4 separate regions of the Homo sapiens genome follow, and regions 1, 2 and 4 are each reported to be linked to region 3. Evidence: microRNA targets listed by miRTarBase, many of them from high-throughput screens and not tested one by one. Region 3 holds a microRNA gene; each other region holds the end of a gene's coding sequence. Distances are between the middles of the regions.

The links. Region 3 holds the annotated microRNA hsa-miR-6807-3p (CACUGCAUUCCUGCUUGGCCCAG, at 2,603-2,625, shown strand). A microRNA usually pairs through its seed, bases 2 to 8, with sites in the 3' UTR of a target mRNA and lowers its output. Matches are read on the target gene's strand: a 7mer-m8 pairs with bases 2 to 8, a 7mer-A1 pairs with bases 2 to 7 and ends in A, and an 8mer does both.
Region 1: miRTarBase lists OSBPL3 as a target of hsa-miR-6807-3p. Seed matches in the 3' UTR shown: 7mer-m8 at 104-110.
Region 2: miRTarBase lists SFTPB as a target of hsa-miR-6807-3p. Seed matches in the 3' UTR shown: 7mer-A1 at 994-1,000 and 7mer-A1 at 657-663.
Region 4: miRTarBase lists ZNF583 as a target of hsa-miR-6807-3p. Seed matches in the 3' UTR shown: 7mer-A1 at 2,607-2,613 and 7mer-m8 at 1,915-1,921.

The regions. Positions count from the first base shown.
Region 1 is chr7:24,796,651-24,800,650 of GRCh38, forward strand. It overlaps OSBPL3 (oxysterol binding protein like 3), which reads right to left. Exons shown (of 23, transcript NM_015550.4): 23 at 1-3,629. The coding sequence ends at 3,533. Among named protein-coding and RNA genes, the nearest start is that of GSDME, 41 kb to the left of the region's middle.
Region 2 is chr2:85,657,831-85,661,830 of GRCh38, forward strand. It overlaps SFTPB (surfactant protein B), which reads right to left. Exons shown (of 11, transcript NM_000542.5): 10 at 3,624-3,705; 11 at 1-1,852. The coding sequence ends at 3,643. Among named protein-coding and RNA genes, the nearest start is that of SFTPB, 8.4 kb to the right of the region's middle.
Region 3 is chr19:58,547,752-58,551,876 of GRCh38, forward strand. MIR6807 (microRNA 6807) reads left to right here and starts at 2,534; the gene lies at 2,534-2,625. TRIM28 (tripartite motif containing 28) reads left to right here. Exons shown (of 17, transcript NM_005762.3): 6 at 41-155; 7 at 283-429; 8 at 543-657; 9 at 735-841; 10 at 989-1,025; 11 at 1,111-1,159; 12 at 1,237-1,489; 13 at 1,580-1,899; 14 at 1,986-2,109; 15 at 2,198-2,284; 16 at 2,396-2,533; 17 at 2,626-2,964. The coding sequence ends at 2,802. It overlaps CHMP2A (charged multivesicular body protein 2A), which reads right to left. Exons shown (of 6, transcript NM_014453.4): 6 at 3,815-4,025. The coding sequence ends at 3,898.
Region 4 is chr19:56,423,875-56,427,874 of GRCh38, reverse strand. ZNF583 (zinc finger protein 583) reads right to left here. Exons shown (of 5, transcript NM_152478.3): 5 at 511-4,000. The coding sequence ends at 3,507. Among named protein-coding and RNA genes, the nearest start is that of ZNF583, 22 kb to the right of the region's middle.

The DNA.
Region 1 (4,000 bases), not on the chromosome of region 3:
AAAATAATTTTCAGTGGTTAAGTGGAAGATTTACAAATATCCATTAAAAAAGTACCCTCTGGATAAAATAATCAGAAATAAAATAAATTAGCCACTTCTGATCACTGCATTCCCCAAAGTCTCTGAAAATGGTTTGCACTTTAGACTGTCATGATTTGCAGATATTTACATGACGCAGGTTTCCAACACAGAAAAATGAAGACTAACACTGAGTAACAGATTAGTACAATGCAGAGGAAAATAGAGCAAATGAAAATAGCTATCATCTGGTAGCAAAAATAGATTTATGCCGGTGTTAATATCAAAATAAAGACATTCAAACAAATTATGCCAATACATTGGAACTATTATTCCTAAGACCATAAGGACACCTTCTTATTGCTTCTACTCATAACTAAAAGGTCTGCGGAGATTCTGTAGTAGCCAGAAGGCATAACTTGTAGTGTATGTAGTAGGGGCTACATCAAGGTTCAACAGCCAAATAAAAACTTTATTACTTTTTAGGCTTGACATCTTTAACAGTAGAACAAGATCACTCATGATAAATCTGGAAGATGCAGATGGAAGACAGTGCTTGAAGCCCAAACAAATGATTTACTACAAGTAATTAAAAGCAGAATATGAGAAAAGCAGCAGTGTAAATGACGTAAACATTAAAAAATATATTAGTTTGTATATTTCCCCCAGGAAGTCTCACAGGAAGCACAGGACACCTGTGCGGCTGTTTGGGCATCCTGGGTACTTCTTGCCCTCAGGTGAACTCCCATCTCTTTAGTTAGGACCAGAATCCACCTGGCTTGTAGGAGAGGAACTACATGGAGAAGCTGCATTGAGGCTTTTATTATTAATACCTATGACTCAAGGAATACCAGCCTTGGGGTGCTTTGGGGCCTGGGGAGGGAAGTGACTGGCTCTCCTGCTACACTGGAGACTGTTAGCTCATTTCTGAATGGATTTCCTGCAGCGTGGGGTAGTCGACAGCTGTGACAGGAACATTACCTGAAGTGCAGGGTGGTTACCTGCACAAAGTCCCATTTCCAAAAATTTCTGTGTAATTCACCAGAAATTTTGGATGGAATAATTAGAAAAAAAAAAGAGGTTAAAACATGTAACTCAAATGGTACAGTGATTAGCATTATTTAACCAGGAGATTTAAAGTCCAGAAAATTAAATTCTACCTTGGTTCTTCCCAAATGATGCCACGTTTCTGTTTTCTTCCTCTTAAAACTATAAAATGTCCTAGAGACATACATTTGGGGGAAAGATGCTTTTGAGAAAAGGGACAGAAGGAGAAAAGAAGTCATTTCCCCCTCAAGATAGTTTTAAGCTTATAATATCAGGATGCATCACCAAGCTGTTTAAATTTCAGAAAAGCCCTTTATAGATGCTAGTACTGACTAGATTTTAAAATCTGCATATAGTTCTCTATCATATTTTAATTCGTTCCCACCCCCATCTCAAATAAGATGACTACAGACGTAATGTTTCATCCAGTTGTCCCTGGGACTCTAAAATAAAGCATAAGGGCAAGTGAAATAACATTAGGATAATTAAAGATTTTCCAAATGCCACATGACAGTGCTACGTCCATTCAGGCTGTGCATTTTGTTTTCGTTGCTTCTTTCTTTTTTGAGCCAGTCTCTGGAGCAGGCCAATTTAACAGCCAATATTACCACGATTCTACATTTATCCTCACACTGTGGAAACTACATTTGTTTTCCCCTTGAGTGCCCTTAAATCTACAGCCTGCTTCCTCATGTCTGTGAGCAGAATTTGGATAAATGCTTGAGATGGAAAGAACAAAGCATACACCAAAGAATCTGACTGTGTCATTCAACTGCTTAGAAATGGAAATGATATTCACATTGTGTTCATCTTGGCATCTCGATAAAATGAATCCAATATTTAATGAGTTGTTTTAAAATGCCAGTCACGTGCAGATTCCAGAAGGCTACACATCCACTTTAAATAACTCTCCATTTTGAAAATGCAATATTGTCCAACTGGTTATTTGGTGTGACAATGAAAAATCATGCATTCTTTTCCTGTAATTATTTTACTCTTCATTCATAACATTCGATATGCTCTGAATTTCTTTAAGTATCTCAAAGTGTTTTCTGGAGAAATCTTTTTACTACATCATTATACTTGATATTCCATAGCATTGCTATGGACTTTAGAATAAGAGGCTTAACAATTAGGCTTTGGTTTTAATGTCATCTGGACAGAAGTTGGACATGCTTTGATAACACAATTCAACTACTACACATATTATTGTAATGTGAAATAACACATTTAAAAAGACGAAGGTTCCCCTTTCAGTAGTTATAATCTGTATTATTCAAGACTGCTGCAAAACTCACAAAAGAATGATATGGATAACAAGAAAGTATAGGAAAGGGGTAAGACACTCACTTAAAGCTTTACCAGAACACAACACAAAGCAAGAACATCAATTCTCTACATTTGTCTATAAGGCAGATGGCAACTTTTTATACAAGATCTAAAATATGGTGCTTATTAAGAGGTAGAAAATACTAAAACAGCATTTAAGAAAAACATGTTGAGTTATCCAAAACAATCAGTTATTTTGCTAAACTTTTACAAAGTCAAACTGCTGTGTGGAATAAACTGTATGTTTTATATTAAACTGGGACATTCCATACTCAACAGGGAGGTGATCAAACGGAGGGACAAAAAACGGGGTGGGGTGGGAAGCAGGAAACAGTCTCTTAACTTCTCAAGGACTCAGCTCTCACTAAGGAGAAATTTCCTACTGTCTCTCTGGGATGCTATTGTGATATTTAATTAATTGGAATTCTTTTCTCTTATGAATAATTTCTCTGAGCAACAGGGTACAATTTTGCATATAAGGCAATAGAACTATAGGGAGGAACAAGTTCAAATGCTTCCTTTTCAAGAAGGTGCCGTATACGTCTTATATAAAAATATACATTCCATTAATCTTATATCCTCTCCCTAACCACTAAAATGCAAATGAAAATATTCTTCAGACTCCAGCACCAGCAGAATTGTTCTGTATGAGCAATTCAAGAGCTGTCTGAGGCAAAAAGATATTTCAGCTACCAAATTAAACTTGGGTAGCTTACGCATGGGTGAGTAACCCTGGGAATTCTTATTTCTTAATGCACCTGGGAGAGGTTGATTTTTTTTCTACAACATAATTTTATAAGGCATAAATTTAATTGGAATCTTCCCTAACCTTTGGAAAATTAGTGTTAAAGCTTCTTTTTTTAACCCACACATGAACATTCAATCTTTCATTTTTATTAAATAGTTTATATATAAAAAGAAATGTCAAGGTGTTCTACATTCATATAAACAATCAGGGTAACATTTGAAATTGTAAAGAAACGCACTGAGGAAAATATAGACTTAAAGAGTTACAATGCTAAGCTAAGCACAAGTGATCATCCTAGAGTATCTTTTAAATATATAAACACAGGTTTGTGCCACTTCAGAAGGCAAGCACAGGAGAAATACACTAATGTTATCTTTCTTCTTTACTTTTTCACCATAAGACAGGATGGTCCAGTTTGGAAAAACCAAGATCTTTTCTAAGTTCCAAATAGGTGCCGTTGCTCACCCAAGAGTCATCGTCGGATTTCCTGTGAAAGAAGAAACAATTTCTTGCAGACTCTTGAAACCAGCGTCACATTCTCAAGTCTCTTTCCTTCCTAACCTCCCTGCTTTCCCCATCCTCATTCCCACATGCATTCAGCGTCCCAGAGTGTTGGGACCGGGAATTCTGGGAATTAGATGTCCAGAAATAATTTTGTTACTTTTTTTTTTTTTTTTTTTTTGAGATGGAGGCTCGCTCTGTCATCCAGGCTGGAGTGTAGTGGCATGATCTTGGCTCACTGCAACCTCTGCTTCCCAGGTTCAATCGATTCTCCTGCCTCAGCCTCCCGAGTAGCTGGGACTACAGCCATGTGCAACCATGCCCGACTAATTTTTGTATTTTTAGTAGAGACGGGGT
Region 2 (4,000 bases), not on the chromosome of region 3:
CTTACAAAGCACATTCTCAATGGCGGAGAGAATATTACAAAATACCTTCTTAAGGGTGCGGGGGTGCGGGCGTGGGGTGGGTGGGGAGAATATTACAAAGCACCTTCTCAAGGGTGGGGAAGGTGTATTGTCACAAGGTCAATTGATCAGTTAGGGTGGGGCAGGAACAAATCACAATGGTGGAATGTCATCAGTTAAGGCAGGAACTGGCTATTTTCACTTCTTTTGTGGATCTTCAGTTGCTTCAGGCCATCTGGGTGTATACGTGCAGGGCACAGGGGATATGATGGCTTAGCTTGGGCTCAGAGGCCTGACAGTGGGTAATTTCCACTCTCTTTGTCTGTAGTTTCTGAATTTCTTACAAGAAACATGTATAAGAAATATGACAAAAGTTATTTTATAAATAAAGGGACACTTCCAGGCATTTCAGTCTTTAAGAAAAGCTAAGGCTTGTTTGGCTTTTTGTTTATTTTTAGGTTTTTGGTGTCCTCATGACCTAACCTCATCCCAGTGAGTAGAGACTGGGAGGGGAGAGCAGCAGCTGGAGGGCAGGCTGGGAGCGCTTGTGAGGGAGAGGAGCTATGGACGTCTGCTTCTCTGCCAAGGGAGAGAGTGAGGTAGGCCTGGGCCCGCTGACTTCAGGGTGAGGCCACAGCTACTGCAGCGCTTTTTATTTATTTATTTATTTACTGAGATGGAGTCTTGCTCTGTCACCCAGGCTGGAGTGCAGTGGTGCAATCTCGGCTCACTGCAACCTCTGCCTCCTGGGCTGCAGTGATTCTCCTGCGTTCAAGTAATTCTCCTGCCTCGGCCTTCTGAGTAGTTGGGATTACAGGCATATGCCACCACACTTGGCTAATTTTTTGTATTTTTAGTAGAAATGGGGTTTCACCATGTTGGCGAGGCTGGTCTCGAACTCCTGACCTCAAGGATCCTCCTGCCTCGGCCTCCTAAGGTGCTGGGATTGCAGGTGTGAGCCACCACGTCTGGCCATACTGCAGCACTTTAAAGGACGGTGTCTTTTTCTTTCTCATAAAAGAGAATAGGACTTTATTAGCATTGGTGCAGACATTGTATTACACAGGAATGGGTCCCTAGCTTGCACAACCCCAGCTGAGCTTTCAGCAGATAAATCACAGCAGAAATAGAATCACCCTAGGACTTTCAATCAAAAGCTGGAAGTCCACCTTACAGAAAGACAAAAAGAAACCCCTTTTTATATCTTAACAAAGCAATAGCTCTCAAGCAGCAGAGCATCTCGAGGAAGAAAGCTTGCCCGGTCGCCATCCCATCATGCCAGAGCGTGCAGTGTCCACCCTTGACTACGCTGGGGAATTGCTGATTTTTTGAAAAAGCTTAACTTAACAATTTCTGATGTCTATCTTTTAGAGTTCTGTATGTTCCCATTTTTTATTCTTCTGAATTTTGAATTGCAAGTAGCTGTAAAATCCAATCTTTGAGTGCATGGGGGTGGGTGTGAGGCGGGGCTCAGCTTCAACCCCCTGTCCTGTAAAGCAGTGGCTGGTTTTTCCTGAGCCCAGCCCTGGGAGGTCGTGGTAGGTGTGGAGGCTGCAGAGCTCCTCCAGATGCTGCCCTCGCTGTGCCTCACACCAGAGAGGATGGAAGTGGGCTCTGGTGTCAGACTGTGGTTGAGCTGAGACAGACAAGGCCGACACAGGGCTGGGGGCCCGTGGTCCACCAGTGGAAGTGACTGCCGAGGAAGGGCGGTGAGGAGGGCGGTGTGGGAGCTGAGGCTTCTTTTCAGCCTGGCAGCTGGCGAGGGCCAGGGAGCAGGGGAAGAGCCTGGTCACCATGGTCCCAGAGCCCGTCTCACTTGGCTTTTCCTTTGCAGCTGAGGAGGATGAGGGCCAGAGAGGGACTGTGTGTATGTCCTGCCTGGGGACCCACAGCCAGGTGATAGCAGAGGTGGTTTGAAGCCCAGGCCTCCCACGCCAACCCACTGGTCTTGCTGTTTCAGCAGGGAAGGCCGGGAGCCCTAGGAGCTGGGGAAAGGCGACTGCCCGGGTCCTGGGTGACTCCCCACCCCCAGATCCCCAGCTGTCATCACTGGGGCAAGGACACATTAAACTGGTCCCTGTGGGTCAGGTCTGAGTGGGGGAGGACCTCCCCTCCCCACTGCCTCCCACAGGGGCTTGTGATGCAGGGTTTCAGGAACAGGGCTGGCTTCCCCGCCTCAGATGGAAGAAGTGGACTTGGCTGTGAGCTCCAGGAGGGCAGGGCTCAGCCATAGCCCCTACCCTAGGATGTGGCCTGGCCACAGGCACCCACTACTTTTTTTTTTTTTTTTTTGAGACGGAGTCTCACTCTGTCACCCAGGCTGGAGTGCAGAGGCGCAATCTTGGCTCGCTGCAATCTCCGCCTCCCAGGTTCAAGCAATTCTCCTCCTCAGCCTCCCAAGTAGCTGGGATTACAGGTGTGTGCCACCACATCTGGCTAATTTTTTTTTTTTTTTTTTTTTTTTTTAGTAGATACGGGGTTTCATCATGTTGGTAAGGCTGGTCTTGAACTCCTGACCTCAAGTGATCCACTCGCCTCGGTCTCCCAAAGTGCTGGGATTACAGGTGTGAGCCACTGCGCCCAGCAAAGAAATACCTTTTTTTTTTTTTTTTTTTTCCTGAGACAGAGTTGTGCTCTGTTGCCTAGGCTAGAGTGCAGTGGCACGATCTCGGCACACCGCAACCTTCGCCTCCCAGGTTCAAGTGATTCTCCTGCCTAAGCGTCCTGAGTAGCTGGGATTACAGGCACCTGCCACCATGCTCAGCTAATTTTTAAAAAATATTTTTAGTAGAGACAGGGTTTCGCCATGTTGGCCAGGCTAGTCTCGAACTCCTGACCTCAGGTGATCTGCCTGCCTCGGCCTCCCAAAGTGCTGGGATTACCGGCGTGAGCCACCATGCCTGGCCTTACATTTTTTAAAATGAGGGAACAAATGAATAAATGACCACCATGTTAGGGGCTGGCTCTGAACAGAATTGTAAAGTGGGCCAAGCTTGCTCTCAAGGTCACCTTAAGCCCACGGTTGCTGTGTCCTGCCCTCTCAGGGTCATTTCCCAGCCTCCAGGCACCTGTTCACAGAGGCTGCATCTGGCCTCGCCTCCACCCCTCCATCCTAAGGTGCTCCGCTGACTTAGAACAGGACAGTCAGGGAGAGAATGTGTCTCAGGAGGGTGGAGTCAGATGATCACGGCCTTCCTGGCATCTGAGGGGATACAGCTTCGGGTAGCAAAGTGTGATTTTCCCTGAGCCCCAGGAAAGCTTGGCCTTGGTCAGAATACATTGAACCCTGAGGGCCAGAGAGTCCCTGGGGCAAGCTCTGAGAGGGAGGCCTGGGACAGGGCAGGGCGGGGGGTTGGGGGGGAAGCTGGGGGTTGGGCACTCAGTGACTGGGGTTCTGGGCGGGGCAGTGCTCGGGGTCCGGAAAGGGTGTTTTCCTGATGGCCAGCCAGAAGCCCTCAGGAGCCTCCAGCTGTGCGGTGAGAGGGAGGATGGAGCAGCCGGCAGGAGTGGCCGCCTCTTCCTGCTTGGGGAGCAGAAGGGCCTCCCATGCCCTGATGGTCAGGACCTGCCCCCTTACCTCCCCGCAACTGGGGGCCTGGACTCACCTGGACAGCTGAGTTCTCATCAAAGGTCGGGGCTGTGGATACACTGGAGAGGGCTGGACATGGTCCCACACACCCCGAGGGCCTGTCACAGGGACAGCACCAGGGCTGAGGCCTGGGCCCCCTCAGCTCCCCACACCCAGCTCTTCCGGGAAAGAACAGCACTCACTCCACCTCCCGCCTAGTGGGTGCTACCAGTGTGACTCTGTAGACCCCTCGGGCCACTCCCTGAGCCACAGGCCTTAGGGTTTAGAGCCTGAGGAGGTGAGATGTTCACTCCAGAACACCCACTTTGTACCCCCACCCCACCAGCACACACTGGCCAGGGAACACAGCCCCATCCTATAATGGACATCCAGCCGCACTCCTCAGGCCATCCC
Region 3 (4,125 bases):
CAGCAAGACCCTACCTAGCCTGACCTGCTGTGTCCCCTAGAATCCGCCAGGTGTCTGACGTACAGAAGCGTGTGCAAGTGGATGTCAAGATGGCCATCCTGCAGATCATGAAGGAGCTGAATAAGCGGGGCCGTGTGCTGGTCAATGATGCCCAGGTAAGCCTTGTGCCGGTGAGAAGGGTCCCTGAGCCCCCTCTGCTGATTGATGATGCTGTCTGGGGTGAGGAGTGATCCTAGTATTCTTCTGCCTTCTCTGCTTACCTCATACACCTTCTATCTGCAGAAGGTGACTGAGGGGCAGCAGGAGCGCCTGGAGCGGCAGCACTGGACCATGACCAAGATCCAGAAGCACCAGGAGCACATTCTGCGCTTTGCCTCTTGGGCTCTGGAGAGTGACAACAACACAGCCCTTTTGCTTTCTAAGAAGTTGGTGTGTACTGGTGGGCTCCTGGCTGGTGGGTTCCAGGCAGGTGGTTCCCAATACCTCAAATCCCTATTTGTTGTTGGTGTGCTCATTCTTTCCTCCCTTTCACTCCCAACCAGATCTACTTCCAGCTGCACCGGGCCCTCAAGATGATTGTGGATCCCGTGGAGCCACATGGCGAGATGAAGTTTCAGTGGGACCTCAATGCCTGGACCAAGAGTGCCGAGGCCTTTGGTGGGTCCCCAGCTTTACCTCACTCTGTTATTACCCCACGTGCTGCACCTACTTACGTTTCTCTCTTCTTTTTGCAGGCAAGATTGTGGCAGAGCGTCCTGGCACTAACTCAACAGGCCCTGCACCCATGGCCCCTCCAAGAGCCCCAGGGCCCCTGAGCAAGCAGGGCTCTGGCAGCAGCCAGGTGAGCAGGAGAGAGGACCCAGGAAGGGGTGGGCAGGGAATGGGGTCCAGTAGCAGGAGAGAGGACCCAGGCAGGGGGGGTGGGCAGGGAATGGGGTCCAGTAGGGTTCCTGTCCCACTGAGGCAGAGGGTTCTGCTTTGTTCACAGCCCATGGAGGTGCAGGAAGGCTATGGCTTTGGGTCAGGTGAGTGGGTCTGCCTAGTGGGTGGGGAAGGGCCCCAGTGCTGTTTCTACCCCAACCTGCCAGTCTTCTTTCTCCATTTTCTAAGGAGATGATCCCTACTCAAGTGCAGAGCCCCATGTGTCAGGTGTGAAACGGTAAGTATGGCACCTCCCCTGGGGGTGAGGTGGATGGAGGGTGGGGGTGTACTCATGCCAGGTTGCTGCATCTACAGGTCCCGCTCAGGTGAGGGCGAGGTGAGCGGCCTTATGCGCAAGGTGCCACGAGTGAGCCTTGAACGCCTGGACCTGGACCTCACAGCTGACAGCCAGCCACCCGTCTTCAAGGTCTTCCCAGGCAGTACCACTGAGGACTACAACCTTATTGTTATTGAACGTGGCGCTGCCGCTGCAGCTACCGGCCAGCCAGGGACTGCGCCTGCAGGAACCCCTGGTGCCCCACCCCTGGCTGGCATGGCCATTGTCAAGGTAAGCCTGTCCCAAGGAACTATAGCTGTAGGATGAAGCCTGTAGTCCAGGTCTGGACCCTGTTGAACACCCCTCATCACCACCTTGCAGGAGGAGGAGACGGAGGCTGCCATTGGAGCCCCTCCTACTGCCACTGAGGGCCCTGAGACCAAACCTGTGCTTATGGCTCTTGCGGAGGGTCCTGGTGCTGAGGGTCCCCGCCTGGCCTCACCTAGTGGCAGCACCAGCTCAGGGCTGGAGGTGGTGGCTCCTGAGGGTACCTCAGCCCCAGGTGGTGGCCCGGGAACCCTGGATGACAGTGCCACCATTTGCCGTGTCTGCCAGAAGCCAGGCGATCTGGTTATGTGCAACCAGTGTGAGTTTTGTTTCCACCTGGACTGTCACCTGCCGGCCCTGCAGGATGTACCAGGGTGAGTGTGAGGCTGGTGGGGGTCAAGTCTGGGTGTTGGGCTGTCTGGACAGGATCATGTGCAGACCCTTATTTTCTTCACCCTAGGGAGGAGTGGAGCTGCTCACTCTGCCATGTGCTCCCTGACCTGAAGGAGGAGGATGGCAGCCTCAGCCTGGATGGTGCAGACAGCACTGGCGTGGTGGCCAAGCTCTCACCAGCCAACCAGCGGGTGAGGGCTGGGGTTACTTAGGTGGGGTTGCCCAGAGAGGCTTTATAGGTGCTGCCCAGAGCTGTGACATCCCTTACAATGTTTGTAGAAATGTGAGCGTGTACTGCTGGCCCTATTCTGTCACGAACCCTGCCGCCCCCTGCATCAGCTGGCTACCGACTCCACCTTCTCCCTGGTGAGTCCTAGGATGGGAAAGGGGAAGGGGGTGGTGGCTGCTGGGTCTCGCCCTCAACCTGTGCATGTATATGTGTGTCTTTGTGTGTGTATGTGTGATCTCTGCCTGCAGGACCAGCCCGGTGGCACCCTGGATCTGACCCTGATCCGTGCCCGCCTCCAGGAGAAGTTGTCACCTCCCTACAGCTCCCCACAGGAGTTTGCCCAGGATGTGGGCCGCATGTTCAAGCAATTCAACAAGTTAACTGAGGTGAGCCAGTGGAATGGAGAGGCTGTGGGCAGGGGGAGATGTGAAGGAAAGAACTAGGACCCATTCATCCACTGCATTCCTGCTTGGCCCAGGACAAGGCAGACGTGCAGTCCATCATCGGCCTGCAGCGCTTCTTCGAGACGCGCATGAACGAGGCCTTCGGTGACACCAAGTTCTCTGCTGTGCTGGTGGAGCCCCCGCCGATGAGCCTGCCTGGTGCTGGCCTGAGTTCCCAGGAGCTGTCTGGTGGCCCTGGTGATGGCCCCTGAGGCTGGAGCCCCCATGGCCAGCCCAGCCTGGCTCTGTTCTCTGTCCTGTCACCCCATCCCCACTCCCCTGGTGGCCTGACTCCCACTCCCTGGTGGCCCCATCCCCCAGTTCCTCACGATATGGTTTTTACTTCTGTGGATTTAATAAAAACTTCACCAGTTCCTCAGGCGTTGGCTGGTTGGGGGACTGTGGTCCTGGGGCCTGGTTTATTGACTGTATCTACTAGTCAGCCTTATCAAGCACTGGTGGCACAAGGGAGGGGGGTCTTGTCCCCCACCTATCGAAGCCCATGTGTATGGATGCCTAGGGAGTGGGGAAGACTGCCTCCTTGCCCTTTCTGGGTATGGGGAGGGTCACCCAGGGCAAAGGATGTACACACTAGAGGCTTGTTGGGTACCCTGTGGGATACTGGGTAGGTGTGACCTACATCCCTGTGTAGGCAGGGTTAGCCCCAGGTGTAGCACAGCCACTCTACTGAATGCTTCCTAAATTTTGGTGCTGTAGCTGTTTCTCATCTTCAGAAGGTCCCACAGTGAACTGAGACCTTCCAGATGTGGTTTTTTTCCCTGTCTCCCTTTGCTGAGTCCACTTAACATTATCATTCATCTCTGTGTTATGATTTAGTTACTCTACAGTCGAGCCTGTGTGAATCCCAAGGCCACCCCCTTGCCTCTATTGGTTGGTCTGGACTGTCCTTGAGTGTTGTCATTAAACCATCACTGGACCAAACAGTGTTGGACACTACAGCCTGGCAGATGAGGCCTGGACTCTCAAGATCCTACCAGGGTGTTTGGGCAGTCCAGTATCTTGGGAGAGGTGATGGAGAAGGGCCCACAGCTCACCTGAAGCTCCCAGCTCCTGAAAATCCCAGGTGGACTTTGCTTGTTCACCCCTGCCCCAAACCCCCACCCTTAGCTTAGTACCAAGTGCCTCTTGCCTTAGTGATGCCCATCCTCCCAGGGACCCCAGTCTGGTCCCACATCAGGCCAAAAGTCACATGGGCCTGGAGACTAGTGTCAAATCTCTTTTATTACAGAGGGGTTGTGGTAAAAGATCCTGGGCATCCACTGGTTATCTCGGAGTGGCAGGGGCACTCAGTCCCTCCGCAGGTTCTTAAGCCGTTCCTCCAGGTCTGCATCAGCATCAGCTAGGGCTGAGGCTGCGGCCTCTGCTTTTTTCCCACCAGCAGCCACACTAAGCGAGCCCCCAGTTGAGGGGAGGTCTGCAGAGAAAGTGGGGGTTTGAGCAGGTGGGGTCAGGCAGCGGAGGGGAGTAATGCAGGGAAAGGGAGGGCTTGGAGCTGTGGCTGGGCCTTGGGTGGG
Region 4 (4,000 bases), 2.1 Mb from region 3:
CAGGGTTTCACCATGTTGATCAGGCTGGTCTCTAACTCCTGAGGTCAGGTGATCCACCCGCCTCGGCCTCCCAACGTGCTAGGATTACAGGCGTGAGCCACCATGCCTGGCCAAAAGCACAATAATTTTTTTTTTTTTTTGAGACAGAGTCTCACTCTATCGCCCAGGCTGGAGTGCAGTGGCATGATCTTGGCTCACTGCAACCTCTGCCACATGGTTCAAGTGATTCTCCTGCCTCAGCCTCTCAAGTAGCTGGGATCACAGATGCCTGCCACCACACCCAGCTAATTTTTTGTATTTTTAGTAGAGATGGGGTTTCACCATCTTGGCCAGGCTGGTTTTGAACTCATGACCTCATGATCCACCTGCCTCAGTCTCCCGAAGTGCTGGGATTACAGGTGTGAACCACCGCACCCAGCCAAAGCACACTATTTTTTGACACAGTCAATTTTATCAATCTTTTCCTTTATGGTATTTGAATATTTTAGAAACACGTGTCTGACACCAAAGTCGTTAACATATCCCACTATATTTTTTCTAATACTTTTGCTTTAGTAATTTACATTTAGATTTTTATTCAGTTAGAACTTATACTTGTTAATGGTGTGAAATAAGGATCCCATTCAATTTACTTATACAAGAGAGGGGAGAGTGAGGAGGCTTTTGGCAAGGGCTACTGACATAACTTTCACATACAAAGGCTTCAAGAGGCTTTTCATCATGTCTTCTTAGAAGCCACAGCCTGTACATAAGCCAACTCCAAGCCTGAACTTCTCTAGGGATCCTTTGGGCAGACTAGATTCCATTTTTAAAACCCTTCGGTCATTCGCATATAACATGCAGCATCTTCTGCTACAATTCATGAACACTCTTCCCTGTTTTGCCTTTTACAAAATTATTTCATCCACTCAAAAGCCTCACCTTTTTTTTTTTTTTAAGAATCATTTACATTGTTCTATGTGTATAATAGAATCTGGAGGGAAAGACATTGTGTGCCGAGTTTTTGAACTTCAAAATAAAATTCTACTTTTCCCAATTAAAATTCTGAAGTTGACAAATTGCCTACCAGAGTTTGTACAAACTCATGCTCTTTTAAATTAGTGCATAGTATCTCTTTTTGTATGCTTTCAATGCAGTTTTATTAATCTGATATTGAAAAAAATAGTATTTCATTGGCCTAAACTGTATTTCTTCTGATCCTAGGGAGATTTAGTACTTACCACATATTTATTGGTCACCTGTTGCCTCTTCATATCCTTTGACTATGAGCTGGAGAAAAGCGTCATTTCCTAAGGGATTTTTATGAGCAATTTTATGTTAAGGATATGAATTCCATAGTTTATATGTGCTGCAATAATTTTCTCCCATTCTTAGGTTTAAAAAATATTGTATCTTTTACTATCTTTGATCATATAAAAGCTTTATAAAGTTCTTATACAGTCAAATCTATGACTTGTTGACAGGAGGTGGGGAGGCTTCTGAATCTCATGTTTAGGAAGGCCAGTCTCATTCCATGATTAGAGTGTGTCACAGACTCCTCTAATCACTGTTTGTTCCACATTTAGATAAAGCACTTGAAAGTAACTTTCACATATGGAATGAATTGTTGTATAGAGCACGATAAATTTTTCCAAAACTGTTAAACCACTGATGGTATAGGTCACTTTTGTTATAATTTTCTTTATATGTGTAACAGCATGAATATGTATGTTCACACATACATGTTAAAACCTTACAAAATTTATTAGAATTTTGTTAGGTAGAATCTGTAAATTAATTCATGGGCTACTGACATCAGTATGATAGTGAATCTGTCTTACCATATAAAGGATAAAATATTTATTTGTCTTCTTTTTCATCCTCCATTAAACTTTCGTCATTCTGTTTGTATCTATAGTCACATGTGAATTGATCACTGCATTGATTATATGCCAAAAGAATTCTGGGGTCAGGAAGTAATATTAAAAGAGGTCAGATGTAAAGAATCAGGGAGTGGTTTGAATGTTGGAGAAAGGGAAAACACATGGTCTGCTGAAGGTATTCATATGTATTTTAAACTTAATGCATACAGAATCAAACATGTTTGTGGGCCAGTTTATGAGAACTGACCTACAGTTTTGGTTTCTTTTCTTCACTAGTTTTGAAATTTTAGTAATTTAACAACCTTTATTATTTTAAATGACATAGATTTGATATAATTCATTCACCCAGATTTAGAACAGGGGTTCAAACTTATACTTTATTTTCTACTCATCATTGGTTACTGACTTGTTTCAAGATTTCTTTTTAATTTCGATTTTGCCTTTGTTTACATGTAAATGATGAATACATCTCAGTAAACTGTCTTATTAAAAATGACTTTTTAGGCCAGGCACGGTAGCTCACGCATGTAATCCCAGCACTTTGGGAGGCCAAGGCAGGCGGATCACCGGACGTCAGGAGTTAGAGAAAAGCCTGGCCGACATGTCAAAACCCTCTCTCTACTAAAAATACAAAAATTAGCTGGGCGTGGTGGTGCAGGCCTGTAATCCCAGCTACTCAGGAGGCTGAGGCAGGAGAATCACTTGAACACAGGAGGCGGAGGTTGCAGTGAGCCAAGATTGCACTACTGCACTCAAGCCTGAGCAACAGAGCAAGACTCCATCTCAAAAAAAAAGACTTTTAAAATAAGACATTAGCATCTTAGAACTGTTAAATATCCAGTGAATGCTGATACAAGCCACCATCTTACCCTATATCATGGACTCTAATGTAAATCCTACTGTTAGATACCCTCCTCACCTACTTTTAGAAAAATGCCTACCATTCCTAAAAAAAAAAAAACTTCACAATCTCTCAGTCCTGAGCTGCTGCATCTCTTTTTATTTCTGAGATAATCATGGCTGAGATGATTGGCTTTCTATGTATAGTATGGTTATCTTTTTACTTTACATTATGGTTTGAGTAATTACTTTATGCTAGGCACGCTGCTGAGCAATTTACATGCATTATTTCATTCTTCTATTAACTTCTGAGGTAGAACCATTATTATTCCCACACTATAAATAAGACTGAAGCTTACAAAGCACAAACTGCTGCCCCCAAATTAGAGGGCAGGAAATGGAAGTGCAAAGATTGGAACCCAGGTCTTTTTGATCCTGGAATATGTATCTTAATCCTGGATAAGTATTCAGAGAATGAGATGGATAGTGACACAAGATAGAAACTTTGGAAGGTAACCTGGAACAAGGTGTTAGAGGCTAGGTTTTTAGGCTATTTTGAAGAATGTGTGCTTTAACTTAAAAACCATGGGATGCCACTGAGGGATTTTAATGAGGGAGAAATGAGATTAAACATATTTTTAAAAATACAAATTTGGTTGCAATGTGGACATCTGACAGAGACAATGGTGAGTACAAGGAGACCAATTAGAAAGCTACTCGAGTATCCCATGTCAAATATATTAATGTGCATTGGACAAGGATGATGGGATGGAAATGGATTCAAGAGGTGGATTCCAGAAATATTCAGGAGATGAAACCTACAGGTCTTGGCAACTGATTTGATGTGGAGGGTGAGGGAGAGGAAAGAGTCAAGAATGACTCCATAGTATGAATTCTCTCATGATGAGCAAGATGTGCACGCTGCCTGAAAGATTTCCTGCAATCTTTACATTCATAGGGTCTTTCTCCAGTATGAATTCTCTGATGTAGAGTAAGAGATCCACTATAGCTAAATGCTTTCCCACAAACATTACATTCATAAGGTTTCTCTCCAGTATGAATTCTCTGATGTTGAGCAAGGCCTGCATTCTGGCTAAATGTTTTCCTACATTCCTTACACATATAGGGTTTTTCTCCAGTATGACTTCTCTGATGTTGTGCAAGTGATGAACTATTGCTAAAGGCCTTCCCACATTCAATACATTCATAGGGTTTCTCTCCAGTATGAACCCTCTGATGTTGATCAAGGTATGCAATTTGGCTGAAGGCTTTCCTACATACTTTACATTCATAAGGTT